Homo sapiens: one gene and its partners. The protein of the gene in region 3 interacts with the protein of the main gene of each other region in a pairwise test. Each region holds a gene or a part of one and is shown on either strand. Other genes may lie near its edges.

Region 1 (7,900 bases), about 21 Mb from region 3:
CCTGTAATCCCAGCTACTCAGGAGGCTATGACAGGAGAATCGCTTGAGCCTGGGAGGCGGAGGTTGTGGTGAGCCAAGATCGTGCCACTGCACTCCAGTCTAGGCAAGTGAGACCCTGTCTCAAAAAAAAAAAAAAGGAAAGAAAACTGAACTCCCACCTGGGCAACAGAGTGAGACTCCGTCTCAAAAACAAAACAAAACAAAACAGAACAAAACAAACCAGGACAAATACCTTAGAAAGGTCAGAATACTTTGCAAAGTACTTACACTGTACAAGTCTGGAACAAACCGCGTGCTCACTCCTTACCTGGCAAGGAGTTCAAGGCCATGCTTGGTCGGACAGCAGCTGAGGCAGGCAGTCACCCCCGAGTCTCCCTTCCAAGGTCACGCCCACCACTCATGCCCGATGGGACCACAATGCATGCCTTCATGCTCCACGCCTGCCTTGCATGCATGCTTGCACCAAGCCTACAATGCCGCATCCACTTTCTTTGCCTAGGCAAAGCCTCAAGTCCAGATCTTGGCCATCTCCTCAAGGCTCCTTGTCCCCCGCCTGACTTCACCTAGACTCCAGAGTCATGCACTCTGATTGCCCATGCTCTACAAGCTCTAGTCTTGCTGAAGGGCTAACTCCTCATTGCCCTCTCTGGTCCCCGTGTCACCGCACTCTCCAATGTCTGCCTCTCCAAATAATGAATCTCCTTTCAGAACTCACTGCTGCATTCCCAAGCCCAGCACCAGACCTGGCACAAAATACATGTTTATTGAGTAGATGACATTTAATTTGCGAGAATGTACTTTTAAAAGTGTCCTGTAAAGCCCGAGCCTGACTGTCTGATCTCCCACGGCACCCAATCAGCTGGGCTCCTCTGAGCAGGAAGCGATGTCAGATTTAAGTGAGTTTTGTAGGATCCCTGGGAAAAGCAGAGACAGGTGGCAGGCAGTACAGCCTCAGAGTTCAATAGAGCATGCCCAAATCTCCATCCAACTACCCTCCAGTTATCTGGCCACTTGATTCCTTATCTAGAAACACAGTGAAGAGCCAGGCGCAGTAGCTCACACCTGTAATCCCAGCACTTTGGGAGGCTGAGGCGGGTGGATCACCTGAGGTCAGGAGTTGGAGACCAGCCTGACCAACATGGAGAAACCCCGTCTCTACTAAAAATACAAAATTAGCCAGGCGTGGTGGTGCATGCCTGTAATCCCAGCTACTTGGGAGGCTGAGGCAGGAGAATCGCTTGAACCCGGGAGGCGGAAGTTGTGGTGAGCCGAAATCGCGCCATTGCACTCCAGCCTGGGCAACAAGAGCAAAAATCCATATGAAAAAAAAAAAAAAAAAAGAGCCAGGCGCAGTGATTCACGCCTGTAATCCCAGCACTTTGGCAGGCCGAGGAGGGCAGATCACGAGCTCAGGAGATCGAGACCATCCTGGCTCACACGGTGAAACCCGGTCTCTACTAAAAATACAAAAAAATTAGCCGGGCGTGGTGGCGGGTGCCTGTATTCCCAGCTACTCGGGAGGCTGAGGCAGGAGAATGGCGTGAACCCGGGGGGCGGAGCTTGCAGTGAGCCGAGATTGCGCCACCACACTCCAGCCTGGGCGACACAGCGAGACTCCGTCTCAAAAAAACTAAAGAAAGAAAGAAAAACAAACAGTGAAAAACCACCCACTTCCTAGGGTTCTGGGGAGGGGTAAATGAGGGAAATCCTTATTGTCATCATCATCAACCACTGTGTTCTGATAGAGGCACTCGGTAGCTGTCATTTAAATGAGTGAGTGGTACTTGCTCCTTTGTGAAATTCTACACATGGCTTTACTTTTCATTAATAAAGCTATTTCAAAGGGGATTTTGCCAAAAGACTTTTAGATAGCTTCAGGGAATTGTTTTAAAACTAACACAATTTGCCAGGCACGGTGGCTCACGTCTGTAATCCCACCACTTTGGGAGGCTGAGACGGGCGGATCACCTGAGGTTGGGAGTTCGAGACCAGCCTGAACAACATGGAGAAACCTCGTCTCTACTGAAAATACAAAATTAGCTGGGTGTGGTGGCACGTGCCTGGAATCCCAGCTACTCGGAAGGCTGAGGCAGGAGAATTGTTTGAACCCGGGAGGTGGAGGTTGCGGTGAGCAGAGATTGTGCCATTGCACTCCAGCCTGGGTAACAAGAGTGAAACTCCATCTCGAAAACAATAAAAAATTTAAAAAACTTACAAAAAAATAAAAACAACACAATTCAAGCTGGGCAAAGTGGCTCACACCTGTAATCTCAGCACTTTGGGGAATCCGAGGCGGGATAATCATTTGAGGTCAGGAGTTCAAGACCAGCCTGCCCAACATGGTGAAACCTCGTTTCAACTAAAAATATGAAAATTAGCCGGGTGTGGTGGCTGGCGCATGCATGTAATCCTAGCTAATCAGGAGGCTGAGGCATGAGAATCACTTGAACTTGGGAGGTGGAGGTTGCAGTGAGCCGAGATTACGCCACTGCACTCCAGCCTGGGTGATAGAGCAAGACTCTGTGTCAAACAACAAAAACCAACACAATTCAACTCTTAGGAAAAGTACACCAAAGACAGCAAGACTCCTCTGGCACTAGACCAAGTCAAGCTAAGCCTGCAAGCAAGCTAAGAAGAAAGACTACAAGGCACGAAGTCAACTGGCATCTAATTAATCTCTTTAGGGATACTGAAAAAGAAAATTTTAAATATGAAATCCTACTTCCCAGGTTTGGACTGATAGATCCTCTCATGCTAATGCTATCTGGCTCTGGGAAATTCCACATCATAAATTCCCCCTAGAACCCTTGCATTCTTTGAATGGGTGTGCGGAAGGCTGAATGCTCACTGACATGCTTTATAACTATGTATGAATATAAGGTCAGAACATACATAAGTATACATACTTTATAAGTATATGTGTTCTGACCTTATATTCACTATTGCAAAAGTACCAAGCCTAGGGGAACACATTTCAGGTATCAGTTCACACCTTGCCTCTTCAGTAAGTTTAAAGGATAGTCAAAATCACTTCATTATCTCCCCTTCATAATAGGAATTTAATCCATATCTAGGCAAAGTCAATCTGCAGAAATATTGGAGGGACTAAGAAAGTTATGCAAATCTCTACTAGTTGAGGTCATAATAGTAAAAATCAAATTAAAAAGAGAAGGCCGGGCATGGTGGCTCACACCTGTAATCCCAGCACTTTGGGAGGCCGAGGCGGGCAGATCATGAGGTCAGGAGTTCAAGACCAGCCTGGCCAAGATGGTGAAACCCCGTCTCTACTAAAAATACAAAAAATAGCCTGGTGCAATGGCAGGTGCCTGTAATCCCAGCTACTTGGGAGGCTGAGGCAGGAGAATCACTTGAACCCAGGGGGCAGAGGTTGCAGTGAGCCGAGATCATGCCACTGCATTCCAGCCTGGGTGACAGGGTGAGATTCTGTCTCAAAAAAAAAAAAAAAAAAAGAAAGAAAAGTTCAGAGATATGTTTTCTTCCTAAGAAAACCTATGCAGGCATTGCTGGGTTGCCTAAAACCAACTTCCAAATACATTTTTGGTTTTAGGTATGCCATCTCACACACCACACTGCTTGCTCCTAAAACATTATAACAGTGAGCATTTAGAATGGGTGGGATGGCTCATGACTGTAGTCCCAGCATTTTGGGAGGCTGAGGCAGGAGGACAGCTTGAGCCCAGGAGTTCAAAACCAGCCTGGGCAACATAGTGAGACTCTGTATCTACAAAAAAATGTTAAGGCCAGGCACAGTGGCTCATGCCTGTAATCCCTGCACTTTGGGAGGCTGAGGCAGGCAGATCACCTGAAGCCAGGAGTTCTAGACCAGCTTGGCCAACATGGTGAAACTGTGTCTCTACTAAAAATACAAAAATTAAGCCGGGCATGGTGGTGCATACCTGTACACACCTGTAATCCCAACTACTCGGGAGGCTGAGGCAGAATTGCTTGAACCCATGAGACGAGGGTTGCAGTGAACTGAGATCGCACCACTGTATCCCAGCGAGGGCAACAGAGTGAGACTCTGTCTCAAGAAAAAAACAAAACAAAACAAAAAACCCAGGTTTGAAGAGAGAGCTATATTTTCCTTCTGAAAACAAACTTACGGCAACAAAACATGTTCAGAGGGCCTCACGACTGAGATGAAAAATTCCTTCTTGCTAAACAGTTGAGTTCAACTGACTGCTGGGGTGATAAAAGGGGTGACTGGCACATTGAGAGTGGGCAGGATCAGAAAGATTTTCAAAAGCCTCACAGGATCAGTTGATCAGAAGAGACAATCTGCTTCCCAGCCCAGGTTGGTAATCTACCAGGCTGCAGGGTTTACTGTGAGGAGCTGTATTTCCTCCAGAGGGGTGGAAATAGCCCATTTGAGGATGGATGATTTTTGTCTGGACTTGAGTGAACTTTAGGGCTTTGAGTTCATCTAAAGGCTAGGTCCAAAGAAATGAGGGAGATTTGAAGCTTCAAAGTCTCGAAATAAAAGCCCCGGGGGTCATCCCAATTCAGAAAGAGGCCAGAAACCAGGAACCAGCTACCTAACACCTGTGTTATCAAGCATGAATAACGCCCCCCACCACACCATTTAATTTCTTTTTTTTTTTTCTCTGTCATCCAGGCTGGAGTGCAGTGGCACGATCTCGGCTCACTGCAACCTCCGTCTCCAGGGTTCAATCGGTTCTCCTGCCTCAGCCTCCTCAGTAGCTGACACATACTACAGGTGGGCATCATCATGCCCAGCTAATTTTTGTATTTTTAGTAGAGGTGGGGTTTCTCCACGTTGCACAGGCTGGTCTCGAAGTCCTGAGCTCAGGTGATCCTCCTGCCTCGGCCTCCCAAAGTGCTGGGATTACAGGCGTGAGCCACTGCACCCAGCCTAATTTCTTAGCCTTAAAACAAAAAGAGCTATCTTTGAAAATGGTAAAGAAGTAACTGGCTGGCAGGGCGTGGTGGTTTATGCCTGTAATCCCAGCACTTTGGGAGGCCGAGGTGGGAGGATCACCTGAGGTCAGGAGTTTGAGAGCAGCCTGGCCAACATGGCAAAACCCCGTCTCTACTAAAAAAATACCAAAATTAGCCGGGCGTGGTGGCAGGCGCCTGTAATCTTAGCTACTCGGGAGGCTGAGGCAGGAGAATCTCTTGAACCCAGGAGGCAGAAGTTGCAGTGAGCCAAGAACACGCCAGAGCGAGACTCTGTCTCAAAAAAAAAAAAAAAAAAAAAAAAAAAAGTAACTGGCTGCATTCCATTCTAAATCTAAAGCCTGTCTAGGGAAACTAGAATCTCAGGAGATTGCTGCAAGGAAAATGCAGCAGCCCTGGGGCTGTGCTGGGCCTGAGGAAGGCCACATCTGAGCAGAGCTCACCCCTTAAGCAGCAATATCCCGGTCTGGAAAGTACAAAAGTAGCTTCCAGGACACACCCAAAGCTCTGCCTCTGCGGTGACATTCCTGGGTGTGTCAAAACCATCTTCCCCCTTTCCCAACTCCTACTAATCCCTCTAGAATCTCCTCAGTGTCATGAAACTACTGAATGCAAGGTGCTAGGCATTGATCCTGGCTCTGGGAACACAAAGTATAATAAAGCCACTGCTCTCCGACTAGCCTAACAGACATCACGGAAGGCACCCTCTCCTGGCACAGCTCTTCTGTGCTAGGAATTACCTCTACACAGCACATTCCTGTTATAACAATTATTTACAAGTTGGTCTCCCACACACCCTACTTCTCAGTGGGCTCCAAGAAGGCAGAGAACATCTTAGCCATCTTGGTTTCTCTAGCACCTGGTACAATGCTCCAAAAAGAATAAAAACACTGGTTCACGTCTGTCATCCCAGCACTCTGGGAGGCCAAGATGGGTGAATCACTTGAGCTCAGGAGTTCAAGACCAGCCTGGACAACATGGTGAAACCCCATCTCCACAAAAAATACAAAAATTAGCCAGCCATTCATTGGTGGTTTGAGGCTGTAGTCCCAGCTACTTGGGAGACTGAGGCTGGAGAATCACTTGAACCTGGGAAGCAGAGGTTGTAGTGAGTTGAGATCATACCACAGCACTCCAGCCTGGGTGACAGAATAAGACCCTGTCTCAAAAACAAACAAACAAACATGGCCCGGCGCAGTGGCTCACGCCTGTAATCCCAACACTTTGAGAGGCCAAGGCGGGTAGATCATCTGAGGTCGGGAGTTTGAGACCAGCCTGGCCAACATGGTGAAACCCCATCTCTATTAAAAATACAAAAAACTAGCCAGGTGTGGTGGTGCACACCTGTAATCCCAGCTACTTGGGAAACTGAGATGGGAGAATCACTTGAACCCGGGAGGCGGAGGTTGCTCACTAGCCGAGATCGCGCCACTGCACTCCAGCCTGATCGCGCCACTGCACTCCAGCCTGGACAACAGAGTATGAGACTCCGTCTCAAAAAAACCCAAACCAAACCAAAAAACAGCCAAACAAACAAACAAAAACAAACAAACAAACAAAAAACCACAATGAAAACAGTTGGAGGAGCCAGGCTCAGTGGCTCATGTTTGAAATCCTCGACCTTTGGAAGGCTGAGGCGGGAGGATTTCTTAACTCAGGAGTTTGAGACCAGCCTGGCCAACATAGGGAGACCTAAAAAAATAGAAAGATTAGTCCAGGTGTGGTGGCTCAGGGCTGTAATCCCAGCACTTTGGGAGGCCGAGGTGGGTGGATCATTTGAGGTCAGGAGTTCAACACCAGCCTAGCCAATACGGTGAAACCCTGTCTCTACTAAAAATACAAAAAAAAATTAGCCAGGCGGTAGTGGCACACGCCTGTAATCCCAGCTACTCAGGAGGCTGAGGCAGGAGAATTGCTTGAGCCTGGGAGGCAGAGGTTGCAGTGAGCTGAGACTGCACCACTGCACTCCAGTCTGGGTGACAGAGTGAGACCCTGTCTCCAAAAAAAAAAAAAAAAAAAAAAAAAAGAAAGATTAGCCAGGCGTGGTGGCACAGGCCTGTGGTCCTAGCTACTCAAGAAGCTGAGGTGTGAAGATTGCTTGGGCCCAGAAGGTTGAGGCTGCAGTGAGTCATGATGACACTACTGCACTCTAGCCTGGGTGACAGAGCGCGGCCTTATATAAAAAAAAAAAAGCCAAAGAAATAGTTGTATGGTGACAAGGACTCTAATTTCTCAAACAGAGCATCTGAAACTACAAAAAGTGTCAACATTCCCTGAGAAGCAAAGGAAAGAAAGTTTGAAGAACAAATTTACTTTCTCTCCCCAAACCATGAACTTGAGAGCAGGAAGAACTTGAGAGCTATGCCAGAACCCAGTTCAGTACCCAGATATTGTAAAGGTCCGATAAATATCGGCCAAATTTGTTAAAAATTCATTGAAGAACAGGCCAGGCACAGTAGTTCACGCCTGTAATCCCAGCACTTTGGGAGGCTGAGGTAGGCAGATCACCTAAGGTCAGGAATTTGTGACCAGCCTGGCCAACACGGTGAAACCCCATCTCTACTAAAAATACAAAACTAGCCACGCATGGGGCGTATGCCTGTAGTCCCGGCTACTCAGGAAGCTGAGGCAGGAGAATCGCTTGAACCCGGGAGGCAGAGGTTGCAGTGAGCCGAGATAGCGCCACTGCACTCCAGCCTGGGCAACAGAGTGAGAGTCCGTCACACACACACACACACAATTCATTGAAGAACAAATGCATGCATTATCCACCTTTTTATCTGCCTCTTCCTTCCTAGGACTGCTGTTTACCTGGCTTTGTAACCCCTCCCCACTACAGGGCTCTAGTGGGTACACAGTCCACACCACCAGACCCTAGTCCCATACCCAGAGACCGTCCCTCACCTTACAACAGTCCCCATTCAACAAGGCCTCATCCTCCAAAAGGACTTCAGTCCTTTCC
Region 2 (7,900 bases), on a different chromosome or scaffold from region 3:
ACCAAGAAGGGCAGTGGCAGCATCGTGATCAACTCTGCATCTCTGTTGTCTCAGTGTCTTGAAATGATTAGCACTCATGGGCCACGCTACTCTGAGCAAATTTAAAGTATCAGAGTGCCTGAGACTAGATAGTGGAAGTACTCGGGAGTCAGGGCTAGATTATCCTGTAGGGAAGGGAACGTGAGCCATTGAAGAGTTTTAGCAGACAGTCACAACTTTACCTTATTTCCAATCTTTGGAAAACAAAGGGCTTAAGGTAAAAACTTTGTGGAGCCATTAAGCTGGAAGAGGATTCAGCTCTATCTGGTGAATTTTAAAATGTTAAAAATATTCTATATTGTCTTCTTCCAGGAACTTTCACATTCATTCAGACTTTGTAGTTTCCACATTTATTTGTCCAGTTGATACAGCATTTCAGATAGTTTTACTGTTGAAAATTATAAGGACATTTGCCCTCCAACTATGATTGTATATTCCATGATAATAATTTTGTTTCTTTTATACCCTATCAGCAAAGACTCTTGGAACTGTAACGCCCAGAAAACCTGTCTTATCTGTCAGTGCAAGAAAAATTAAGGACAATGCGGCTGATTGGCACAATTTAATCCTGAAGTGGGAAACCCTCAATGATGCAGGTTTTACCACTGCAAATAATATTGCCAACTTGAAAATCAGTTTATTGTAAGTACATATTGGTTTTTCATGCTCTAAGTTTTTCACCCTTAATAACTGGGGAAATAATGTGAATAAATTTTAAAATAAAATATTAAGCAAAAAAAGCAAGTGGTAAGATGATACGTGTAAGTATAAATTGTATTGTACATTTTAAATACAAAATTATATTCCATATATATATATATATATATATATATTTAGTTATTTATTTATTTATTTTTTTGGAGATGAAGTCTCACTCTGTTGCCTAGGCTGGAGTGTGATGGCGCGATCTCAGCTCACTGCAACCTCTACCGCCTGGGTTCAAGCAATTCTCCTACCTCAGCCTCCGGAGTAGCTGGGATTACAGGCGCCCGTCACCACACCCAGATAATTTTTGTATTTTTAGTAGAGACGGGCTTTCACCATGTTAGGCTGGTCTCGAACTCCTGACCTTACGTGATCCACCTGCCTCAGCCTCCCAAAGTGCTGTGTGAGCCACCGTGCCTGGCTATTCTGATTTTTAAAACCACAGATTCTTTGATTCTTTTGTAGTTCATAGGCATAATGATTGGGTTTTCATGCTCATGTATGACCTGTGCCTTCCTCAAACTTTGCTATGATGTTGGCACATTACCTAGCTGATATGGAAAAAACTACCATGAATTCTTTTCATCCATTTTTGGATTTTACGTAAACAAAAAACATATGTTATTGTTTCCTTTATATCTCACTTTCTTTTTCTATTTTTTATTTTTTATTTTTGGAGACGAGTCTCACTCTATCCCCCAGGCTGGAGTGCAATGGCGTGATCTTGGCTCACTCTAACTTCTGCCTGTCAGGTTCAAGTGGTTCTCCTGTCTCAGCCTCCTGAGTAGCTAGAATTACAGATACCTGCCACCATGCCCGGCTAATTTTTGTATGTTTAGTAGAGACAGAGTTTCACCATGTTGGCCAGGCTAGTCTCAAACTCCTGACCTCAAGTGATCTGCCCACCTTGGCCTCCCTAAATGCCGGTATTACAGGCATGAGCCACTGCGCCCAGCCATGTCTCACTGTCTTTCAACATGGAAGCCATGCGTGTAATGTAGAGCCACTATTCTGGTTCTGTTCTTTCTCATTGCTGTTTAATAGTGTTTACCCACATTAGACCTCTCACACTGGTTTATCAACTAAGTTATATAATATTCTCAATCTTTTGTTGTCATTTCAACAGTGTGCACAGTGTCTTTCCCAGGAATAGATTCCATCTCAAGAAACCACCTTCTTTGCTCATCCATAAGAAACAATTCCTTATCTGTTCAAGTTTTCTCATGAGATTGCAGCAATTCAGTTCCATCTTCAGACCCCACTTCCAGTTCTGGTTCTCTTGCTTTTTCCACTGGCAGAGTAGATTTAACATCATTCTTAAGGGCCCTAGGAATTTGAGAATGGTAAATGAGCATTGGATTCAACTTAAAGTCACTAACTGCAATATCCCCTAATAAGAGGGTGAGCCTGTCTCTTGAAGCTTTGAAGCCTGTCATTGACTTCTCTGTAGTTGTGAATGTCTTGGATGGCATGTTCTTCTAATAGAAGGCTGTTTCATCTACACTGAAAATCTGTTGTATCATGTAGCCACCTTCATCACTGATCTTAAGTAGATCTTCTGGATAACTTGCTCCAGCTTCTACATTAGCGCTTGCAGCTTCACCTTGCACTTTTATGTTATGGAGATGGCTTTTGTCCTTAAACCTCATGAACCAAATCCTGCTATCTCAAACTTTTCTTCTGTAACTTCCTCATATCTCTCAGCCTTCACAGAATTGAAGAGAGTTAGGGTCCTGCTGTGGATTAGGCTTTGACTTAAGGGAATGCTGTGTCTGGTTTGATCTTCTATCCAGACCACTCAAACTTTCTCCATATCCACACTAAGGCTGTTTCACTCATCATTCACATGTTCACTGGAGTAGCACCTTTAATTTTCTTCAGTAACTTTTCCTTTGCCTTCACAACTTGGCCAACTGTTTGGCACAAGAGGCCTGGTTTTCAGCTTATCTTAGCTTTTTTTTTTTTTTTTTTGTAGAGATGGAGTCTCGCTCTGTCGCTCAGGCTGGAGTGCAATGGTGCAATCTTGGCTCACTGCAACCTCTGCCTCCCGGGTTCAAGCAATTCTCCTGCCTTTGCCTCCCAAGTAGCTGGGACTACAGGTGCACACCGCCACGCCCAGCTAATTTCTTTTGTATTTTAGTAGAGACGGAGTTTCACATGTTGCCCAGGCTGGTCTTGAATTCCTGAGCTCAGGCAATCTGCCCGCCTTGGCCTCCCAAAGTGCTAGGATTACAGGCGTGAGCCACCGCACCTGGCCCCTTATCTGAGCTTTTGACATGCCTTCCTCACTAAGCTTAATCATTTCTAGCTTTTAATTTTTTTGTTTCTTAAATTGGCCAAAGTATAGCTTTTGATTTAAAATGAGAGATATGCAACTCTTCCTTTCACTTGTACACTTAGAGGCCAATGTAGGGCTATTAATTGGGTTGATTTCAGTATCCTCCTATTTCAGGGAACAGGGAGGCCCAAGGAGATGGGGAGAAAGGGGAGCAGCCGGTCAGTGGAGCAGTCAGAACACACAACATCCATTCATTAAGCTTGCCGTTATATATGCACATGGTTCATGGCACCTCAAAACAATTAAACTAGCAATATCAAAGATTACCAATCACAGATCATAGACATAATAATGAAAAAGTTTGAAATATTGTAAGAATTACCAAAATATGATAGAGAGACATGAAGTAAGCACATGCTGTTGGCAAAATGGTGCTGATTGACTTGCTCTACATACAGAGGGTTGCCACAAACCTTCAATTTGTAAAAAATGCATTATCTATGAAACTGAATAAGGTGAAGCACAATAAAATGAGGCGTGCCTATATTCCTGGATTGTGAACTCTTTGAGGAAATGATCCATGTCTTATTCATCTTTGTACATCCAGCACCATGCCCTATGCCAAGGATGCCACACCGCTGAATGGTGTTTTTTTTTTTTTTGAGACAGTCTTGCTCTTTTGTGCAGGCTGAGTGCAGTGGTGCTATAATGGCTCACTGCAGCCTTGACTTCCTGGGCTTAAGTGATCCTCCCACCTGAGCCTCCTAAGTAGCTGGGACCACATACGTGTCCCACCATGCCCAGCTAATTTTTACTTTTAATTTTTGTGGAGATGAGGTCTCACTGTGTTGCCCAGGCTGGACTCAGACTCCTGGACTCAAGCAGTCCTCCCGCGTCCATCCCTCAAAGTGTTGGGATTACAGGCATGAGCCACCAAAACCGGCTGTCACATGGCTGAATTTAACTGACTTATTTTGGTGCAAAATTGAGTGACCAATGGACATATTCATTGCACATATAAATAATAACTGCATTTGTATCATAATGATATGAAAGAACAATGCTTATGCAAAATGTCCCACGTAACTATGTGGATATAGAGGTTTGTAGAATTTATTATAAGGAAATAAGGCAAGCTTAAAGAGTATATTTTGTACACATTATTTTCTATTTTGTTTAGGAATAAAGACAAGATAGAACTAGACAGCAGCAGCCCAGCCTCGAAGGAAAATGAAGAAAAGGTGTGTCTGGAATATAACGAGGAACTGGAGAAGCTGTGTGAGGAACTGCAGGCCACCTTGGATGGGTTGGTAAGACATAAAGACGCAGGCCACTTGTGGTCACTGTCACTGAATCCGATGGACGTATTTGGGGTTTGCTTGACCATTGGCCATCACTTACTCCTTCTCAGTCTCCTCTGATGTTCTCTTCCTCTGCCTGCTGCGTAAACCTTAATGTTCCCCAAGATGCTGTCTTAGACACTCACTCCTCCTGTGCGTCATCCGGGGAAATGTCACCCACTTTCAGGGCTCATCACATAGTAAATTTTTTTTTTTTTTCCATGATATGGAGTCTTGCTTTGTCGCCCAGGCTGGAGTGCAATGGCGTGATCTTGGCTCACCGCAAACTCCGCCTCCTGGGCTCAAGCGATTCTCCTGTCTCAGCCTCCAGAGTAGCTGGGACTACAGGCGTCCGCCACCATGCCTGGCTAATTTTTGCATTTTTAGTTGAGACAGGGTTTCACCATATTGGTCAGGCTGATCTCAAACTCCTGACCTCAGGTGATCCACCTGCTGGCCTCCCAAAGGGCTGGGATTACAGGCATGAGCTACCACGCCCAGCCACAGAGTAAATATTTTAGGCTTCCAGGGCCAGCCAGTCTCTATCTCAGCTACTCATCTCTGCCACATAGGACTAAACAGCCATAGATAATATATGCGTAAATGGATGTGGCTGCATTCCATGAAAACTTTATCTTTGTTTTTTGGATTTTCTTTTTTTTTTTTTTTGAGATGGAGTCTCATTCTGATACCCAGGGTGGAGTACAGTAGCATGATCTTGGCTCACTGCAAACTCCGCCTCCCAGGTACAAGTGATTCTGCTGCCTTAGCCTCCCAGGTAGCTGGGATTACAGGCTCGTGCCACCACATGAGCTAATTTTTGTATTTTTAGTAGAGACAGCATTTCACCATGTTGACCAGGCTGGTCTCGAACTCCTGACCTCAAGTGATCAGCCTGCCTTGGCCTCCCAAACTGCTGGGATTACAGGCGTGAGTCACCGCACCTGGCCTTTTTTGTTTTTGTTTTTGTTTTTTTTGAGACAGGGCCTCACTCTGCCACTGAGGCTGGATGGAGTGCAGTGGCGAGATCTTGGCTCACTGCAACCTCCGCCTCCTGGGTTCAAGCAATTCTTGTGCCTCAACCTTCCACATAGCTGGGATCGCAGGTGTGCGCCACCATGCCCAGCTAATTGTTGTATTTTTAGTAGAGATGGGGTTTCACCATGTTGGCCAGGCTGGTCTCGAAGTCCTGGCCTCAAGTGATCCACCCACCTCAGCCTCCCAAAGTGTTGGGATTACAGGCGTGAGCCACCATGTTCGTCCAGGAAATCTTTATCTTTGGACACCGAAATTAGAATTTTGTATAATTTTTATGAGTCACAATCACTATTGTCCTTTTGGTTATTTTCAACCATTTAAAAATGTAAAAACCATCTTAGCTTATGGGCCATACAGAAATAGGCTATGGGCCAGAATTGACCTGTGTTCCAGGGATAGTTTGCCCATCCCTGATACAGCACGTAAGAGACTAAAGTGTTTGTTTAATGAACTAATAACTAAATTTCAATACCTACCATACTGGCCACCAGATGTGAAGATAACACCACCTTATTTCTTTGCTAGGCACAGGAAATCAGGTTTTACACATATTTGAACTTGGATAACTGAAGCTTACCCATAAACATTTAAGATCTTTATATTTTCACCTTTTTGTTTGTTTGGAGACAAGGTCTCGCTGTGGAATGCAGTAGTATGATCACAGCTCACTGCAGCCTTTACTTCCTGGGCTTAAGTGATCTTCTTGCCTCAGCCTCCCGAGTAGCTGGGACTACAAGCATGAACCATCATGCCCGGCTAATTTTTAAAATTCGTTTGTACAGACGGGGTTCTCATGTTGGCCAGGCTGGTCTCGAACTCCTGACATGAAGTGATCTTCCCACCTTGGCCTCCCAAAGTGCTGGGATCACAGGTGTGAGCCCTGGCGCCCTGCCTTAGCTTTTCCGTCATGTCTTGTTTTGGCTTCAGGATCCTGTATGACATCGAGTCCCCTTGTTTCCTCAGGCTCCTTTTGGCCGTGACAGTTTCTCAGACTTCCCTGTTTTTGATGACTTTGACAATGTTGAGGGATACTGGTCAGGTATTTTGTAGAACATCATGAGATTTATCTGATGTTTTTCTCCTAATTAGACTGAGGTTACGGGTTTTGTTCAGAGGAGGACCACAGAAGTAAAGTGCCATTTCTATCATGTCATATCAAGGGCACGTACTGGATATACTGTCATCAGGACTTTTCTTTGGGTCCCACCTATTGCCCGGGCTGGTCTCAAACTCCTGGGCTCAAGCAGTGCTCCCACCTCAGCCTCCCAAAGTGCTGGGATTCCAGGCGTGAGCCACTGTGCACAGCCAGGACTTTCCACTGCTGAAGTTGACCTTGATCACCTGGCTGGGCAGTGTTTCCAGGTTCCTCTGCTGTGACGTTGCTCTTTCTCCTCCTCCCACGCTGTGCTCTTTGGCAGGAAGTCACTATGCATAGCCCACACCTGGGGGTAGGGACGTATTCACCACCTGCTTGAGGGTGCAGTATCTACATAAATTATTTGGAATTATTCTGCGTGGGAGATTTGTTCCCTCCCTCCCATTTGTTAATTTTTTTTTTTTTTGAGATGGAGTTTCACTCTTGTTGCCCAGGCTGGAGTGCAGTGGGGTGATCTCTGCCCACTGCAACCTCTGCCTCCTGGGTTCAAGTGATTCTCCTGTCTCAGCTTCCCAAGTAGCTGGGATTACAGGTGCCTGCCACCACACCCAGCTAATTGTTGTATTTTTATTTGTTTTTTTTTAATTTTTGTTTTGGCCAGGCGCAGTGGCTCATGCCTGTAATCCCAGCACTCTAGGAGGCCGAGGCAGGTGGATCACCTGAGGTCAAGAGTTTGAGACCAGCATGGCCAACATAGTGAAACCCCATCTCTACTAAAAATACAAAAAATTAGCTGGGGGTGGTGGCAGGTGCCTGCAATCCCAGCTACTTGGGAGGCTGAGGCGGGAGAATCACTTTCGGAGGTTGCAGTTAGCCGAGATCAAGCCACTGCACTCCAGTCTGGGCCACAGAGTGAGACTCCGTGTCAAAAAAAAGAAAAAAAGAAAAAGAAAAGTGGTTTGGGAATAAGTTCTCATTCTATGTTCAAAACCAAAAGTTGATTTTATAGGGTATTATTATTTTTCCTATTTTCCTCTATCCGTTATAGAGAATGGTTTCCAGACCTGGTCTGTGTCTTTCATAACTTTGACCTTCTGGGGGTTTCATGCACCGTTCTTCCTAAGCTGGGCTAACATTTCACTGTGGTCTGTGTTTGCTGTGGGAAGAAGCCACCGATGTTGAAATGTAAGGGCCTGCTGTTTATGCACTGTTCATTCAGGGCTGCACGTGCCTATGTGACTTGAATTCTTTATTGATGGCTGAGCTGCAGGATTGAGCATGACTTCTTGCCTGGGGTCAAGGCTCCAGAATTTTCCTTAGTCTCCTGTTATCAGCTTTTCTTAGAATCAGGTGGCACCAGGGAGCTGCTGCAGGACTCACAGGAAAGAGCAGAGGATTGGGTGT
Region 3 (8,756 bases):
AGCGCAGCAGCAGCCTGATCCTGGCTCACTGCAACCTCTGTCTCCCAGGTTCAAGCGATCCTCCCACCTCAGCCTCTGAAGCAGCTGAAACTACAAGCATGAAGGAAAATTTCCTTTTCCTTCAGTGTATGACCTGGAGTAAGCCACTGGGAGACTCCAGGTCCAGGCGTCCCTTTTGCCAGCCATAAAAATGGATTCTGGAGGGCAGAAAATGTGAATTTGCCTAGTGGGGGCCTGGTTCTAATTAGCATCTTACCTTAATTTTATTATTAAAAATTCAAGCACATAGAAAAGATGGGGAAAAAAAGTATTCTGAGCATCTGAATACTATCTCACCTAGATTTATTTGATAGTTGTTGGACAGGGAACAACTATAATCCCAGTACTTTGTGAGGCCAAGGCAAGAGGGTCACTTGAGTCCAGGAGTTCAAGATCAGCCTGGGCAACATGGTAAGATCTCATCACTACAAAAAAATTTAAGAGCCAGGCGTGGACCGGGCATGGTGGCTTATGCCTGTAATCCCAGCACTTTGGGAGGCCGAGGCAGGCGGATCACCTGAGGTCAGAAGTTCAAGACCAGCCTGACCAACAGGGAGAAACCCCGTCTCTACTAAAAATACAAAATTGGTCAGGCGTGGTGGTGCATGCCTGTAATCGCAGCTACTCGGGAGGCTGAGGCAGGACAATTTCTTGAACCCAGGAGACAGAGGCTGTGGTGAGCCAAAACTGTGCCATTGCACTCCAGCCTGGGCAACAAGAGCGAAACTCCGTCTCAAAAAAAAAAAAAAAAATACTCGTCCCATAAACTGGCAATGAGACTTAACCTTCTTCAAGTAGCTCATTTGTTAATTCCTGAGCTGTGGGAAGAGCTTTTAGTTTTGAATAAAGCTCCTGGCCAAAGTAAGTTCTCAAAAATGCTAACTATGGTAGTTAATTCAGGCAGCAATTGTCAATGAATGCTCAAACAGTTGGGTGAAAAGTTAGTGGAAAACAGGATCTTTTGGGGTCTCACTCTTTCACCCAGGCTGGCGTGCACTAGTGCAATCATGGCTCACTGCAGCCTCAAACTCCTGGGCTCAAGTGATCCACCTCAACCTCCCAAGAAGCTGGGACTGCAGGTGCATGCCACCATGCTAGGATAAGTTTTTAAAAACAGTATTCTGTAGATAGTGCCACTGCACTCTAGCCTGGCGACAGAGCGAGACTCCGTCTCAAAAACAAACAAAACATAAACAAAAACCAGTATTTTGTGGAGATTGGGTCTTGCTGTGTTGCCCAGGCTAGTCTCAAACTCCTGGGCTCTGGCCAGGCACAGTGGCTCATGCCTGTAATCCCAGCACTTTGGGAGGGCGAGGTGGGTGGAGTTCGATACCAGCCTGACCAACATGTTGAAACCCCGTCTCTACTGAAAATACAAAAATTAGCCAGGCATGGTGGTGCACGCCTATAATCCCAGCTACCCAGGAGGCTGAGGCAGGAGAATAGTTCAACGCGGGAGGCGGAGGTTGCAGTGAGCTGAGATTGTGCTACTGCACTCCAGCCTGGGTGACAGAGACTCCATCCCCCCCCCCAAAAAAAAAAAGCCAGATGTGGTGGCTCACGCCTGTAATCCCAGCACTTTGGGAGGCCAAGGTGGCTCATGCCTGTAATCCCAGCACTTTGGGAGGCCAAAGTGGGCAGATCACCTGAGGTCAGGAGTTTGAGGCCAGCCTGGCTAACATGGTGAAACCCTGTCTCTACTAAACATACAAAAATTAGCCAGGCATAGTGGCATGCACCTGTATCCTAGCTACTCAGGAGGCTGAGGCAGGAGAATCCTTGAACCCGGGAGGCGGAAGTTGAAGTGAGCCAAGACCACGCCATTACACACCAGCCTGGGCGACAGAGCAAGACTCCATCTCAAAAAAAAAAAAAAAAAAAAAAAAAACTGGCCAAGTGCGGTGGCTCACGCCTGTAATCCCAGCACTTTGGGAGGCAAAGGCGGGCGGATCACGAGGTCAGGAGATTGAGACCATCCTGGCTAACATGGTGAAACCCCGTCTCTACTAAAAATACAAAAAAAAAAAAAAGGAAAAAAAATTAGCCGGGCGAGGTGGCGGGCACCTGTAGTCCCAGCTATTCAGGAGGCTGAGGCAGGAGAATGGCATGAACCCAGGAGGCGGAGCTTGCAGTGAGCCGAGATCGTGCCACTGCACTCCAGCCTGGGCGACAAAGTGAGACTCCGTCTCAAAAAAAAAAAAAAAAAAATCACAAAACCTCCTGGGCTTAAGTTCCCGCCTTGGCCTCCCAAAGTGCCAGCATTACAGGCATGAGCCACCACATACATCTTGGAGATAGGATCTTCACAGGCTCTAAAGCATCATCCCAAAGGTTATTTGCTAACTAGAAAGGATAAATTTATTTTACGATGTAACCCTCACAATCTTAATCACGTGATGAAACTCTGCATTACCAATGGTGGGACATCCTGACACTGGTGCCAACTACTATAATGCGTTAGGATTAGGAAGTACATTAATAAGGATTAGGACACACCCTGTGGAGTCTCCCTGTTCACTGCATAAGCAGAATCTCACCAGGCCCCTAGACCCAACCTCCAGCTTATTGGAAAAAGAGAGGAACAAATTAAACACAGTCAGACAAATCCAGAATGTGGGACACTATGCAGCATGACTAGTCTGTTTTGCCAGAAATTCAATGTCAACAAAACATCAAAAAGGATTTGAGGCTGAGTGTGGTGGCTCATGCCTGTAATCCCAGCACTTTGGGAGGCCAAAGCGGGTGGATCACCTGAGGTCAGGAGTTTGAGACCAGCCTGGCCAACATGGCGAAACCCTGTCTCTACTAAAAACACAAGAAAATTAGCCAGGCGTGGTGGCGCACGCCAATAATCCCAGCTACTCGGGAGGCTGAGGCAGGAGAATCACTTTAACCCGGAAATGGAGGTTGCAGTGAGCCAAGATCATGCCACTGCACTCCAGCCTGGGCGACAGAGCAAGACTCTGTCTCAAAAAAAAAAAAAAAAAAAAAAGGGATTTGGGTGGGGGAATATTCGAGAATAAAATATAGTATGTAATTTCTTCATTACAACCAAATTAGCATGTGAACCTTCATTGGATCCTGATTTTGGAGAAAAGAAAGCAACTATAAAGGATATTCTTGGGTCAGTTGGAGAGATTTGATTAGGTGATATTGTGGAATTCTTGATTCTATTAGATGTGAAATAGTATTTTTGTGGCTTGTACATGAATGTCCTTATTCTTTTTTTTTTTTAGGTGGAGTTTGCTCTTGTTGCCCAGGCTGGAGTGCAATGACGCAATCTCAGCTCACTGCAACCTCCACCTCCTGGGTTCAAGCAATTCTCCTGTCTCAGCCTCCTGAGTAGCTGGGATTACAGGCACATGCCACCATGCCCGGCTAATTTTTGTATTATTAGTAGAGACGGGGTTTCATCATATTGGTTAGCCTGGTCTCGAACTCCTGACCTCCGGTGATCCACTCGCCTTAGCCTCCCAAAGTGCTGGGATTACAGGTGTGAGCCAACGCACAGGGCCTAATGTCCTTATTCTTAAGAGATGCCTCCTGAGCTGTTAAGGGTAGAATATCAAGATGCTTGCAATTACTCTCCAAAGGTTTAGCAAAAGAAACAATATATACACATATGTAGATAAAGGGAACTTAGCACAATGTTACCAACTACTACTTTTTTCTTTTTTTTTTTTTTTGATACAGGGTCTTGTTCTGTTACTCAGACTAGAGTGCAGCGGCATGAACATGGCTCACTGCAGCCTTGACCTCCTGGGCTCAAGGAATCCTCCCACCTTAGCCCCACAAGCAGCTGGGACCACAAGAACATGCTACCACGCCTGGCTAATCCTTTTTTTTTTTTTTTTTTGAGACAGAGTCTTGCTCTGTTGCCCAGTCTGGAGTGCAGTGGCGCTGTCTTGGATCACTGCAACCTCTGCCTCCTGGGTTCAAGCTATTCTCCTGCCTCAGCCTCCTGAGTAGCTGGGATTACAGGCGCCTGCCACCACACCTGGCTGATTTTTTGTATTTTTAGTAGAGACAGGGTTTTACCATGTTGGCCAGGCTGGTCTCGAACTCCTGACCTCGTGATCTGCCCACCTCGGCCTCCCAAAATGCTGAGATTACAGGCGTGAGCCACCACGCCCGGCCCACGCCTGGCTAATTCTTAAATTTTTTTGTAGTGATGAGATCTCACTGTGTTGCCCAGGCTGGACTCAAGTGAACTCCTGGACTCAAGTGACCCTCCTGCCTTGGCCTCCCAAAGTACTGGATTACAGTTGTTGCCTAGCTAACAACTATCAATTAAATCTAGGTGAGAGAGTATTCAGGCGTGAGCCACTGCATCCGGCCATGGGAGGAGTATTATACCCTGTCTACCTCTAGCCCCATCCTGCATGTCTATCCACCTTGAACTAAGAGCTTGTCTTATTACAACAGCTATTACTACTAACAAAGAAACAACGTTGCTAACCAGGCATGGTGGTGTGCGCCTGTAGTCCCAGCTGCTTGGGGGTCTGAGGCAGGAGGATGGCTTGAACCTGGGAGGCTGCAGTGAGCCGAGATGGCACCCCTGCACTTCAGCCTGGGTGACAGAGCGAGACCCTGTCTCAAAAGCAAAATAAAATAAAATAAAAAGTAAAGAAAAAAATAATAAGCAGCTGGGCGCGGTAGCTCACGCCTGTAATCCCAACACTCAGGGGCCGAGGAGGGCGGATCACCTGAGGTGAGGAGTTTGAGACCTGCCTGGCTAACATGGTGAAACCCCATCTCTACTAAAAATACAAAAATTAACCGGGCGTGGTGGCGCACGCCTGTAGTCCCAGCTACTCGGGAGGCTGAGGCAGGATAATTGCTTGAACCTGGGAGGCGGAGGTTACAGTGAACCGAGATCGTGCCCCTGCACTCCAGCCTGGGCGACGGAGTGAGAATCTGTCTCAAATAAATAAATAAATAAATAAATAAAATGAAAAAAAAAAAAAAAACACAAAACATGTTGCACCCCACTCTGAAGATTTTTCATGAATTAATTTAATCCTTAAAAACAATCCTGTAAACTAGGCGCTATTTTCTCTCATTTTAAAGGAGAAACAGACCAGAAGGGATTAAAACACTTGCCGCAGGTCACACAGCTGCTTAGGGAATGGAGCCCGGGATGTGATTCCGTTGGTATCGCACTCCCACCTCACTCCCGCCTTTAACCACAATTAAGTCCAACTGTCCAGCATTGCTTGAGTGTGGTATTGTGTTCTTATAGATACGATCCTACTTAAAGTATCCTGTCAAGAGGTAGGCAAGACGATCCCCATTTAACTTTGTGTAGCTTGAAGAGGTTGATCATTTTTCCAAGGTCACGCATCCAGTGAGTGGGGAATCCGGAGTCGGAATTTGAACCCGGGCATTATCTGTAGTGTAGACCCCTGTCGGGGCTGGATGTGTAAGAAGCTTAATTGCCGGGTTTGGCAGGTGCATGGGTAGTTGTGAGGGGCTCGTATTTTGAGAGGCAAAAGCCCCCACTCGCCACCGTTCCCCGGAGTAAAAAGCCACCTCTTTCCACCCCTCACTCGCGCAGCTGCCCGGGCATGCGCCCTGAAGCCCCTCCTTCAGAATCCGCCCCCTACAAGCTCCGCCCATCACCATGCAGGGCCAATCCCTGGGGCGGAGGGCGGGGCAGCCACGAGAGTGGGCGGTCGCTAAGGGTAGTTAGGAGTCTGGAGTCGTGAGCCGGAGTCAGAACTGCGTCTCGCGACCCAGGCGCGGGTTTCCGGAGGACAGCCAACAAGCGATGCTGCCGCCGCCGTTTCCTGATTGGTTGTGGGTGGCTACCTCTTCGTTCTGATTGGCCGCTAGTGAGCAAGGTATGTAAATGAAGGGGCCTGGGAACAGAAGGGCTACCAGCGGCCGGGTCCTTCACAGAGTTCGATCCCTGGGTCCGACAGGTGCCCGCCGGGGCTGCCCGGGATCGAGACGCACGGACCTCTACGTGCTGTCTGCCCCGGCCGGGCCGGGTGAATCACGCCGCAGTCCGAGAAGGGGGCGGAGGCGCCGGCTTCTTGGCTCCGGCTGCGTGACTCACCCGCCCCCGCCGCCGCCGCTTCGGGAGGAGCCGCCTCCACTGCCGGAAGCGAGCGGAGGCCGGGCGCAGAGAACAGCCCGCCAGGGGTCCCGGCTCGCACGGCGCCGGGAGGCCGGCAGGAATCACAGCCGGGAATCGGGGCAGTAGAAGGGGTCCTGGGGTCAGAGGGGCCAGAATCCCCGGGGGAAAGCCGGCCTGGGCACCGCTAGGGGGCGCCGGGACCCGGGGGCGGAGTCGGGGGTGGGGGCGGAATTCCTGCGGTTCCGGACTCCCCGGACTGCGGGGAAGGGGACGAAGACCCTGTTTTGAGTAGTGTGGTGGGCCATTCTTAAAATCTTGCTAGGCAGGGTTCCGAAACTGGACTCTACAGTCTTCCTGGCCCAAAAAAGTAGGTAGCGCCAGGAGTCCAAAACTCCAGCCCTACCCCCGCCACTCCAAGAACAGTGGACCCTCAAACTTATCTCAGTGACTGAACCCGGTGCCGATCACGATTTCCCGACAAGCCCTGTCTATTCTGCCTCCCAAATAAGTCCTGACTCGACCGACTTCCTTCCATGCCACTACCAGCTCCTACTCCAGGCCATCACCATCGTCCGTCCCAAACGAGTACAGCCTACCAGTGGGTCTCAGATCCCCCCTCTTTTTGCCCCCCACAGTCTTCCTCGAAGCAGCCATGGGGGGGATCTTCCGGAAACCTAATCAGCTCACAGCACCATTCCCTCCCTGCTCAAATTCCTTTAATGACTGCCCACCACACTCAGGATAAAATCCAAACTCCCTACTTCTGCATATGTGGCTTTCTGTGACCTGGCTTGTGCCCGTTCCCCTAGCTGCTCCCCAATCTGGTCTCCTACCATGTCACTCTCTGTGTGCCACCCATGCTGGTCTCTTTCCAGTTCAAGCCCATCCAGCCTCTGGGCTTTTCTCTGCCTTTTTTTGTTGTTCCCTCCTCCCGGAATGCTTTTCCCAGGGTCTCCCATGGCTGACTTCTCTGGCCTGAGGGCTCCATTCAAATGTCACCTCCTTACAGGAGCCTTCTCTGATGATCTAAAAGGTCTCTAGGAACTTTTAGTGTCTTCCTGTAATTCTCTGTACATTTCCTGTGTTTCCTTATTTATTTACTGTTTGAAACATAGTCATAGTAGACAATAAATATTAAACTACGTGAAACTAGTTTAGTATTTATAATATTATAACTTATTTAGATATAATTATGTTATTATAATAAAATATGTGAAACAGCTGCTTTTGTAGGGGAAAAAGTTGAATATTGGCCATTCCACATGGTTCACTGAAGAAATAATAATGTTATCATTAAGTGTACTTATTGGCAGGGTGAGGCAGCTCACACTTGTAATCTCAGTACTTTGGGAGGCTGAGGAAGGAGGATGGCTTGAGGCAAGGAGTTTGAGACCACCCTGGGCAACATAGTGAGACCATGTCTCTACAAAAAAATAAAAGGGAAAAAAAAAAGTACTTATTGACTGAGGGGGGAGGATCGCTTCAGGCCAGGAGTTTGAGACCAGCCTGGGCAATATAGTGAGACCCCATCTTTATTTTTTCAGATAAAAAAGTCTATAAATATACTTAAATATAAAATTTAAAATTTAAGAAGTCTATAGGCCAGGCGCGGTGGCTCACGCATGTAATCCCAGCACTTTGTGAGGCAGAGGTGGGCGGATCACTTGAGGTCCAGGAGGTCGAGACCAGCCTGGCCAACATGGTGAAACCATGCTTCTTCTAAAAATATAAAAATTAGCCGGGTGTGGTGGCATGTGCCTGTAATCCTAGCTTTTGGGGAGGCTGAGGCACGAGAATCATTTGAACCTGTGAGGCAGAGGTTGCAATGAGCTGAGATCACGGCATTACACTCCAGCCTGGGCAACAGAGCGAGACTCCATCTCAAAAAAAATCTATAAATATACATATACAGTTAAATAAAAATTGTCTATATCTTTAAAGTTCCCTAAGAAAAGCTAGGCACAGAGAGGTTAAGTGACTTCCCCAAGATCCTACCTGCAGCAACTGTCAGATCCAGGCTTTGAACTTAACATTTGTTTTCTATAACTGACTATAACTCCATAACTCCCTGCCCTCTGCAGATGCTGAGCAAGGGTCTGAAGCGGAAACGGGAGGAGGAGGAGGAGAAGGAACCTCTGGCAGTCGACTCCTGGTGGCTAGATCCTGGCCACACAGCGGTGGCACAGGCACCCCCGGCCGTGGCCTCTAGCTCCCTCTTTGACCTCTCAGTGCTCAAGCTCCACCACAGCCTGCAGCAGAGTGAGCCGGACCTGCGGCACCTGGTGCTGGTCGTGAACACTCTGCGGCGCATCCAGGCGTCCATGGCACCCGCGGCTGCCCTGCCACCTGTGCCTAGCCCACCTGCAGCCCCCAGTGTGGCTGACAACTTACTGGCAAGCTCGGACGCTGCCCTTTCAGCCTCCATGGCCAGCCTCCTGGAGGACCTCAGCCACATTGAGGGCCTGAGTCAGGCTCCCCAACCCTTGGCAGACGAGGGGCCACCAGGCCGTAGCATCGGGGGAGCAGCGCCCAGCCTGGGTGCCTTGGACCTGCTGGGCCCAGCCACTGGCTGTCTACTGGACGATGGGCTTGAGGGCCTGTTTGAGGATATTGACACCTCTATGTATGACAATGA
Region 4 (6,863 bases), on a different chromosome or scaffold from region 3:
ACAATCTGGGTTCACTGTAATCTCTGCCTCCCAGGCTCAAGTGATCCTCCTGCCTCAGCCTCCCAAGTAGCTGGGATTACAGGTACGTGCTACCACGCCAGGCTAATTTTTGTATTTTTAGTAGAGATGGGTTTTCACCATGTTGGTCAGGCTGGTCTTGAACTCCTGACCTCAAGTGATCCACCTACCTCAGCCTTCCAAACTGCTGGGATTACAGGTGTGAGCCACCACACCCAGCTGAAAAGTTATTTATTTTTTGTTGAGATAGAGTTTCACTCTTGTTGCCAGGCTAGAGTGCAACATGGCACGATCTTGGCTCACTACAACCTCCACCTCCCGGGTTCAAGCAATTCTCCTGCCTCAGCCTCCCGAGTAGCTGGGATTACAGACATGCCACTACGCCTGGCTAATTTTGTACTTTTAGTAGAGACGGGGTTTCTCCATGTTGGTCAGGCTGGTCTCGAACTCCTGACCTCAGGTGATCCGCCCACCTCGGCCTCCCAAAGTGCTGGGATTACAGGCGTGAGCCACTGCGTCCAGCCAAAAAGCTATTTTTGAATGTGATCTGTGTGAAAATAATTCCCTATGGTATGACATATGATAGGCAGGGATGATGTATCTCAGAAATCATACTCCTGTCTTGATATCCCATCAAATATCAATGTTTACATTTAGCGTTTGGATGTCTGGCAGGACATTAAAAAATTGGCAGAGCTGTCCCACACATGCAGAACATCTATAGCGTTCTTGCCTCCTCAAAGGTAATCTTCATGGTGACAACAACAACAACAAAAAAAAAAAAAAAAGAAAGAAAAAAAACACCTCCAGAAATTTCTTAAAATCCCCTAGAGGGCGATACTGTCCCTTAGCCTCAGAGCCATCCTGTTCAGCAATTTCCCCTCCCTTCAGCCCCTGGCTCCAGGGTAGTAGACTTTGTCTCTTAGAGTTGTGCAGTGAGTGTTGGGCCCTGCTGGGAGGTGGGGAACCTCAGATTCCCATAGGTCTTTTGCAACCCAAATGTCTGATGGGGACAGGCCTGTCTTCATAGGTGGCTGCCACACTCAACAATTTGGCTGTGCTCTATGGCAAAAGGGGCAAGTACAAGGAGGCAGAGCCTCTGTGCCAGCGGGCACTGGAGATTCGAGAAAAGGTACCCATGCCCTCTCTCCCTTCTTCTCTTGTCGCTGTGACCCTTCTCTACATGGCTCCTCTGGTCTAACCCTCCTCCTTCACTTTTTTTTTCTCACCCCCATCTCTGCTTTGTTCTCTCTTCCTTCATTCCCTTTCCTCTGCTTTCCACATGTGTGTGCCTACATGCAAACACACGTGTGCTTGTGCACACACATGTTATCATAGCCATTTATCCACTCCTTTGTTCCCTTTCAGGTCCTGGGCACGAATCATCCAGATGTGGCAAAACAGCTGAACAACCTGGCCCTCTTGTGCCAAAACCAGGGCAAGTATGAGGCCGTGGAACGCTACTACCAGCGAGCACTGGCCATCTACGAGGGGCAGCTGGGGCCGGACAACCCTAATGTAGCCCGGACCAAGAACAACCTGGTATGGGAGGAGGGACAAAGTAGGTGGAAGAAACGGAGAGGGGGGCACAGAGGTGGGGGGAGGGGGGGCAGGCGGAGAGGCCACTTGGGTCCTAGAGTCAGGAAGCATCACAGTCTGGCACACTGCTCTCATCAACTTTGTGCTCATGTCTGGGGCTGCCTTTGCGGATGAAGGATCTGCTTCATTCCAGTTATAGAAGTTCCACAGCTTCTTGGGAGTGGGCTGGGAATACCCTTGACCCTACACCTGGAGAAGGAGGTGTGAGAAAGATCTCTGGGGAAAGTGAGAGAGACACTGAGAAGTGGAACTCCCTGAGCCTGGTGAAGACCTTGTCTAAAAAAAAAAAAAAAAAAAAGACCTTGCCTCCCTCCATGTTTTGTTCCTGTATTTTTGCCTTTCTGTCCTCCAGGCTTCCTGTTACCTGAAACAGGGCAAATATGCTGAGGCTGAGACACTATACAAAGAGATCCTGACCCGTGCCCATGTACAGGAGTTTGGGTCTGTGGATGGTGAGTGGTGAGGGCCTGGGGAAGGGGCTGTGGGGAAGAAAAGAAATTCAGACCAAAGGTCGGGGGTTAGGCCACAGCGGTTCCCAGGGGGAGCCAGACCCCTTCAGTCCAGCCTGTCAGCCTCTGGGTCCTGGCTCTCCGACACTGTCTAGCTCCCATCTCTAACCTCCCCACCCCATGTATCACCCCTAGATGACCACAAGCCCATCTGGATGCATGCAGAGGAGCGGGAGGAAATGAGCAAAGTGAGTGGGGGGAAGGGGGGCCAGCCTGGGGAGCTCAAGGCTACCGGGGTCTCTGTCTTACTCCTTGCATTAGCCCAACTCTCACTTCCCATCCCAGCACCAGCCCCAGATGCATGGTGTCCTCCCCAGCCCAGCCTGCACCCTAGCCCCATGCCACCTTGCATCTCAGCATCTCTGTATTCTTATATTTGGCTCTCCCTGCCCTTCTTTCTGGCCTCTCTCTGTCCTGCAGAGCCGGCACCATGAGGGTGGGACACCCTATGCTGAGTATGGAGGCTGGTACAAGGCCTGCAAAGTGAGCAGGTGAGCTGACAGTGAAAAGCCAGCTTGGCCTCCGATGCCCTCCATCCAGTCCCTGCTCCCAGCCTCCCAGACCTTTTCCCTTCCTCCCGTAGACTTTCCCTCAGCTTTAGCTCTGTTCCCTCTCCTATTTTCTTATTTTTTTTCCTCTTGTCTTGCTTGGAAGACAAATGTTTTGTTTTCTGAACTCATTCTCTCTTCCTTCTCTGGTCTCTTTCTCACCACAGCCCCACAGTGAACACTACTCTGAGAAACCTGGGAGCTCTGTATAGGCGCCAGGGAAAGCTGGAGGCTGCTGAGACCCTGGAGGAATGTGCCCTGCGGTCCCGGAGACAGGTCAGAAGCCCAGAGGGGAAGGAGGTCCTAGAGGGAAGGGCCCTGGGGATGAGAGAGTGCCGAGGTTTCTTGGGAGTCTCCTAAGAATAAGCGGAAAGGCTGATGAAGCCAGGAGGGAGAGGAAAGTGAGGCAGTGTTGTGATTGTGGTTGTTTTTAAGCATGTTCTTACCCCCCACCTGCATTTTGTGGTCAGGACTCTAGTTTCAAGATTCACTAAATGGGGATATGAAGGAGAAACCCTGCCCTTTCATAAGGAGGGGACCTGGGTGGTATGGGTGAGAGGAGTGAGGTTGGGGAGAGCCTAAATCAAGAATTTCTTAGATTGTGGGTCTCAATAGTAGGTTGTGAAATCAATTCAGTATGGGCCATGGGGATAAAAATATATACAGATCTATATATAGCAATGCATTGCAAATAGAAAAGGTAAGTATTATTCCAGTAGGTATAAACTGAGACATCACAAGGAAAAATGTTTTCCTTCCAGTGGCTGATGGTGAAAAAAATTTGAAAGCCCCATCCTGAGGAGTTAAGGAGTAGGAAGTCCCAGGTCCTTCCTTTTCCTTCCAGGGCACTGACCCTATCAGCCAGACGAAGGTGGCAGAGCTGCTTGGGGAGAGTGATGGTAGAAGGACCTCCCAGGAGGGCCCTGGAGACAGTGTGAAATTCGAGGGAGGTGAAGATGCTTCTGTGGCTGTGGAGTGGTCCGGGGTAAGTCTGATCATTGCCTTTTCATCTCTCCTGCCCACTCCTGCTGGTGGTGGTGAGAGGCTCTTGGCCATGCTGTCCCAGTCTAGGTAGTGTATTCCTTCAGGGGTATCTCTGGGAGCCAGTTTTTGACAGGACTTTTATTTCCAGTCACTGGGCCTTGGGGGTGGGGGATGTGTGCAGAATAAATGCTAGGAGTAGACTCAGAAACCCATCTGTGTGGGATCCTTGTAGCTTTCATTGCTCACTCCTTTCTGCCAGGATGGCAGTGGGACCCTGCAGAGGAGTGGCTCTCTTGGCAAGATCCGGGATGTGCTCCGCAGAAGCAGTGAACTCTTGGTGAGGAAGCTCCAGGGGACTGAGCCTCGGCCCTCCAGGTATACATGGAAGTCAAGATACAGTAAAGTGGCCGGGTGCAGTGGCTCACGCCTGTAATCCCAGCACTTTGGGAGGCCGAGGCGGGTGGATCACCTGAGGTCAGGAGTTTGAGACCAGCCTGGCCAACAAGGTGAAACTCTCTCCTAAAAATACAAAAATTAGTCGGGTGTGGTGGCAGGTGCCTGTAATCTCAGCTACTTGGGAGGCTGAGGCAGGAGAATTGCTGGAACCCAGGAGGCAGAGGTTGCAGGGAGCCAAGATCATGCCATTGCACTCCAGCCCAGGCGACAACAGCGAGACTCCGTCTCAAAAAAAAAAAGAAAAAAAAAAAAGATATGGTAAAGCAGGCAAGTAAAGTAAGCCCTTGCCTCCAACTCCTCTTGGCTCCTGATCTCTGGAGAAGTATCTCGGAGAGAAACAGGGAGGAAGTCAACGGGCCAGCCATGGAGAGAGAGTTTGGGTAGAATGGGTGCCCCAGTGTGGCAGTGCTCAAGAGGCCCACAGCCTTAAGGCCACTCAGGAGGAAGAGAGGAGGCCTCAATTCTTCCGTTTTCCATTGTAGCAGCAACATGAAGCGAGCAGCCTCCTTGAACTATCTGAACCAACCTAGTGCAGCACCCCTCCAGGTGAGAGCAGTGCTTGTGAGCATATTGGTGGGTGAGGAAAAAAGGACAGCCAGTGAGCAAGCCCAGTGGAGTAAGGGAAGAGGGAAGGGAGAGGAGTCATCTGGGATGAAGATGAGCCAGGGGATTGCAGTCATTAAGGAATCAGGCAGATAGCTTGTGGTGAGTGCTGACCACCAAGGGACAGTTTCAGGCCAGACATAGTAGCAAATAAGTTAATAAGGAGGGAAATAGGAATATTCTGTAAACTGGTACTTTGGAATTATGAATAATTTAAGAATTATTTGGAGATACGAATTATTTTTTCATCCTGCAGCCGCCTTAGTAGTAGATGAGAATGGAAAAAGAAAAGTATTAAATAATCCCCATCTGAGAAAACACTAGTGATATTTTAATGGCAAATGACTTCTTGTATCAACACACAAGTATATGCCAGTATTCATGTGGTTCTTCCAGGTAGCTTCTCCACCAGATTGTGGCCTTCTGGAAAACCCTAGCAGAGGCTAAACAAAGTCCCAGGTCCAGAGATAGACTGGTCCAGAGACAGATGTGATCCTAGGTCCAGAGATACACTGTGACCATGGGATGGATGGACTCTAGGAGCCAGTCTTTGGGAGGCCGAGGTCCCTGAGCTGATGGGGTAGTGTTGTCTGTTTCAGGTCTCCCGGGGCCTCAGTGCCAGCACCATGGACCTCTCTTCAAGCAGCTGACATTCAACCCGGCCCCCAGGTCTGCTGGGTCCCCCCACCCCCACAGCCCTCACAGCATTCCCCATTGCTCCTGGCTCTTCCCCACCCCTAGGTGGGACAGTGAAGGGGAGCAGTTTAACCAGAAGATTGCTGCTGCCCTTAGGGTCTCAGCTCCCTCCTCAGGAATCCCTCTTAGGAAGGACCCTCAGGACACCCTCTCTGCACCCTGTGGTCCTCTAGAGTAGCTAGCTCTGAGGCCCCAAGGTGGGTACAAAGCAGGTATGGCCCTCAGAGATGCAGCCTGCTGCTGGCTTTTCAGTCAGAGGGTTGGGGGCTGGCCAGCCAAGCTGCCTTGCCCTGGCCGCTCTTACTCCCTCCCTCTGCTGTCTCACTTCAGGTCCATGTATTTCACTTTTCTTAAATAAAAGAATCAGGTAACCTTTCTGTGACTTGAGTCCTGATTGAAGAGGGTATGAAGCAGGGCTTGTGTTGGGGCCCTTCACAGAAGGTGAGGGGCAGTGATGGATGGAGCAGCAGGAGGAGTGTTGATTCTTGGATCTCTCCTCTCTTCCTCCCGTTGTTTGTATCATCTCCAGCAGGGCCTGTAGGAAGGCATCTGGGGGATGGGGAAGAAGGAGGCTCACAACCCAAGGAGAAGGTGCTGTGGACTGGGTTGTCAGGGACATGTGGTGGCCATGTGGCAGGACCCTGGAGTCCTGGCGCCACTTCTCCTGGCTGTGAGGCCCTCTGTGGCTGCCATTCCTCCTCCCAGCTGCTTGGGGGAAGGGAGGTCTAAACAGGCCTGGGGGGCCCTCCGGAACCAGAGGGGAGACAAGGCACTATCCATCCCCTCTCAGCATATCTTGGAGGCCTGAGCAGCAGCTGGGGCCCATCTTCTAAAGCTTGACTCCTCCTGACCCGCCTCCTACACCCCTTGCTGCTTTCACAACAAAGAAAGAATGTGGGGGTGGTGGCGCTGGGGGTGGGGGTGCCTGGAACAAGGGTTGTGCTGGGCCTCCCCACAGCTGGAGACTTGGCCATACCCTGACACAGCCCAGACTGCCTGGAGATGGACTTGGGATGAATTTGTCAGTTAGCAGACTTCAGCCTGGCTTTCAGAGCCCAGCGTGTTTCTACCTTTGGGTTCAGATTGGTCTACAGCCAAACCAGACCCCAGTCATGCACACTTCAGCCCCTCTCCGGGCTACACAGCATCTTCAGGTTACTTGGGGACATTAAGGACACCCTGCTGTTCTGGGTCTGCCGTTAAGATTTTGGGTTGCTGAAGAGTTGGCGGGGCCCGCCTCTTCCCCTGCCCCCACCTGGAGAATTCTGGGGGAACTGTTGGCCAGAGCCTCCAGGTATGCCCAGAATGGACCATTCTCCCCAGGGTCCACGGAATCGCACAAGTCACTTAGGTTCTCCCGGATCCCTGCAGAGTCGGTGGTGGGTACAGCAAATACTCAGGTCCCCTGCACTTCCCTGAGCCTTGCTCTCTCTATTCTCCATCCCTCTCC

The links.
Region 1: the proteins of SERTAD1 (region 3) and PBX4 interact in binary tests that used the Homo sapiens proteins (3 or more experiments, as listed by UniProt).
Region 2: the proteins of SERTAD1 (region 3) and CINP interact in binary tests that used the Homo sapiens proteins (3 or more experiments, as listed by UniProt).
Region 4: the proteins of SERTAD1 (region 3) and KLC4 interact in binary tests that used the Homo sapiens proteins (3 or more experiments, as listed by UniProt).

Annotation. Positions count from the first base shown.
Region 1 is NC_000019.10:19,608,228-19,616,127, forward strand, and holds part of PBX4 (pre-B-cell leukemia transcription factor 4), read right to left. Parts: intron 1-7,900.
Region 2 is NC_000014.9:102,352,200-102,360,099, reverse strand, and holds part of CINP (cyclin-dependent kinase 2-interacting protein), read left to right. Parts: intron 1-512; coding exon 513-681; intron 682-1,197; exon of another isoform or gene 1,198-1,301; intron 1,302-4,202; coding exon 4,203-4,332; intron 4,333-7,900. UniProt on the Homo sapiens protein: Component of the DNA replication complex, which interacts with two kinases, CDK2 and CDC7, thereby providing a functional and physical link between CDK2 and CDC7 during firing of the origins of replication.
Region 3 is NC_000019.10:40,422,993-40,431,748, reverse strand, and holds the start of SERTAD1 (SERTA domain-containing protein 1), read left to right. Parts: upstream 1-5,756; 5' UTR 5,757-5,882; intron 5,883-8,202; coding exon 8,203-8,756. UniProt on the Homo sapiens protein: Acts at E2F-responsive promoters as coregulator to integrate signals provided by PHD- and/or bromodomain-containing transcription factors. Stimulates E2F1/TFDP1 transcriptional activity.
Region 4 is NC_000006.12:43,069,306-43,076,168, forward strand, and holds the end of KLC4 (kinesin light chain 4), read left to right. Parts: intron 1-1,048; coding exon 1,049-1,150; intron 1,151-1,386; coding exon 1,387-1,560; intron 1,561-1,969; coding exon 1,970-2,069; intron 2,070-2,261; coding exon 2,262-2,314; intron 2,315-2,546; coding exon 2,547-2,617; intron 2,618-2,841; coding exon 2,842-2,950; intron 2,951-3,518; coding exon 3,519-3,659; intron 3,660-3,917; coding exon 3,918-4,033; intron 4,034-4,596; coding exon 4,597-4,660; intron 4,661-5,027; exon of another isoform or gene 5,028-5,316; coding exon 5,317-5,367; 3' UTR 5,368-5,788; downstream 5,789-6,863.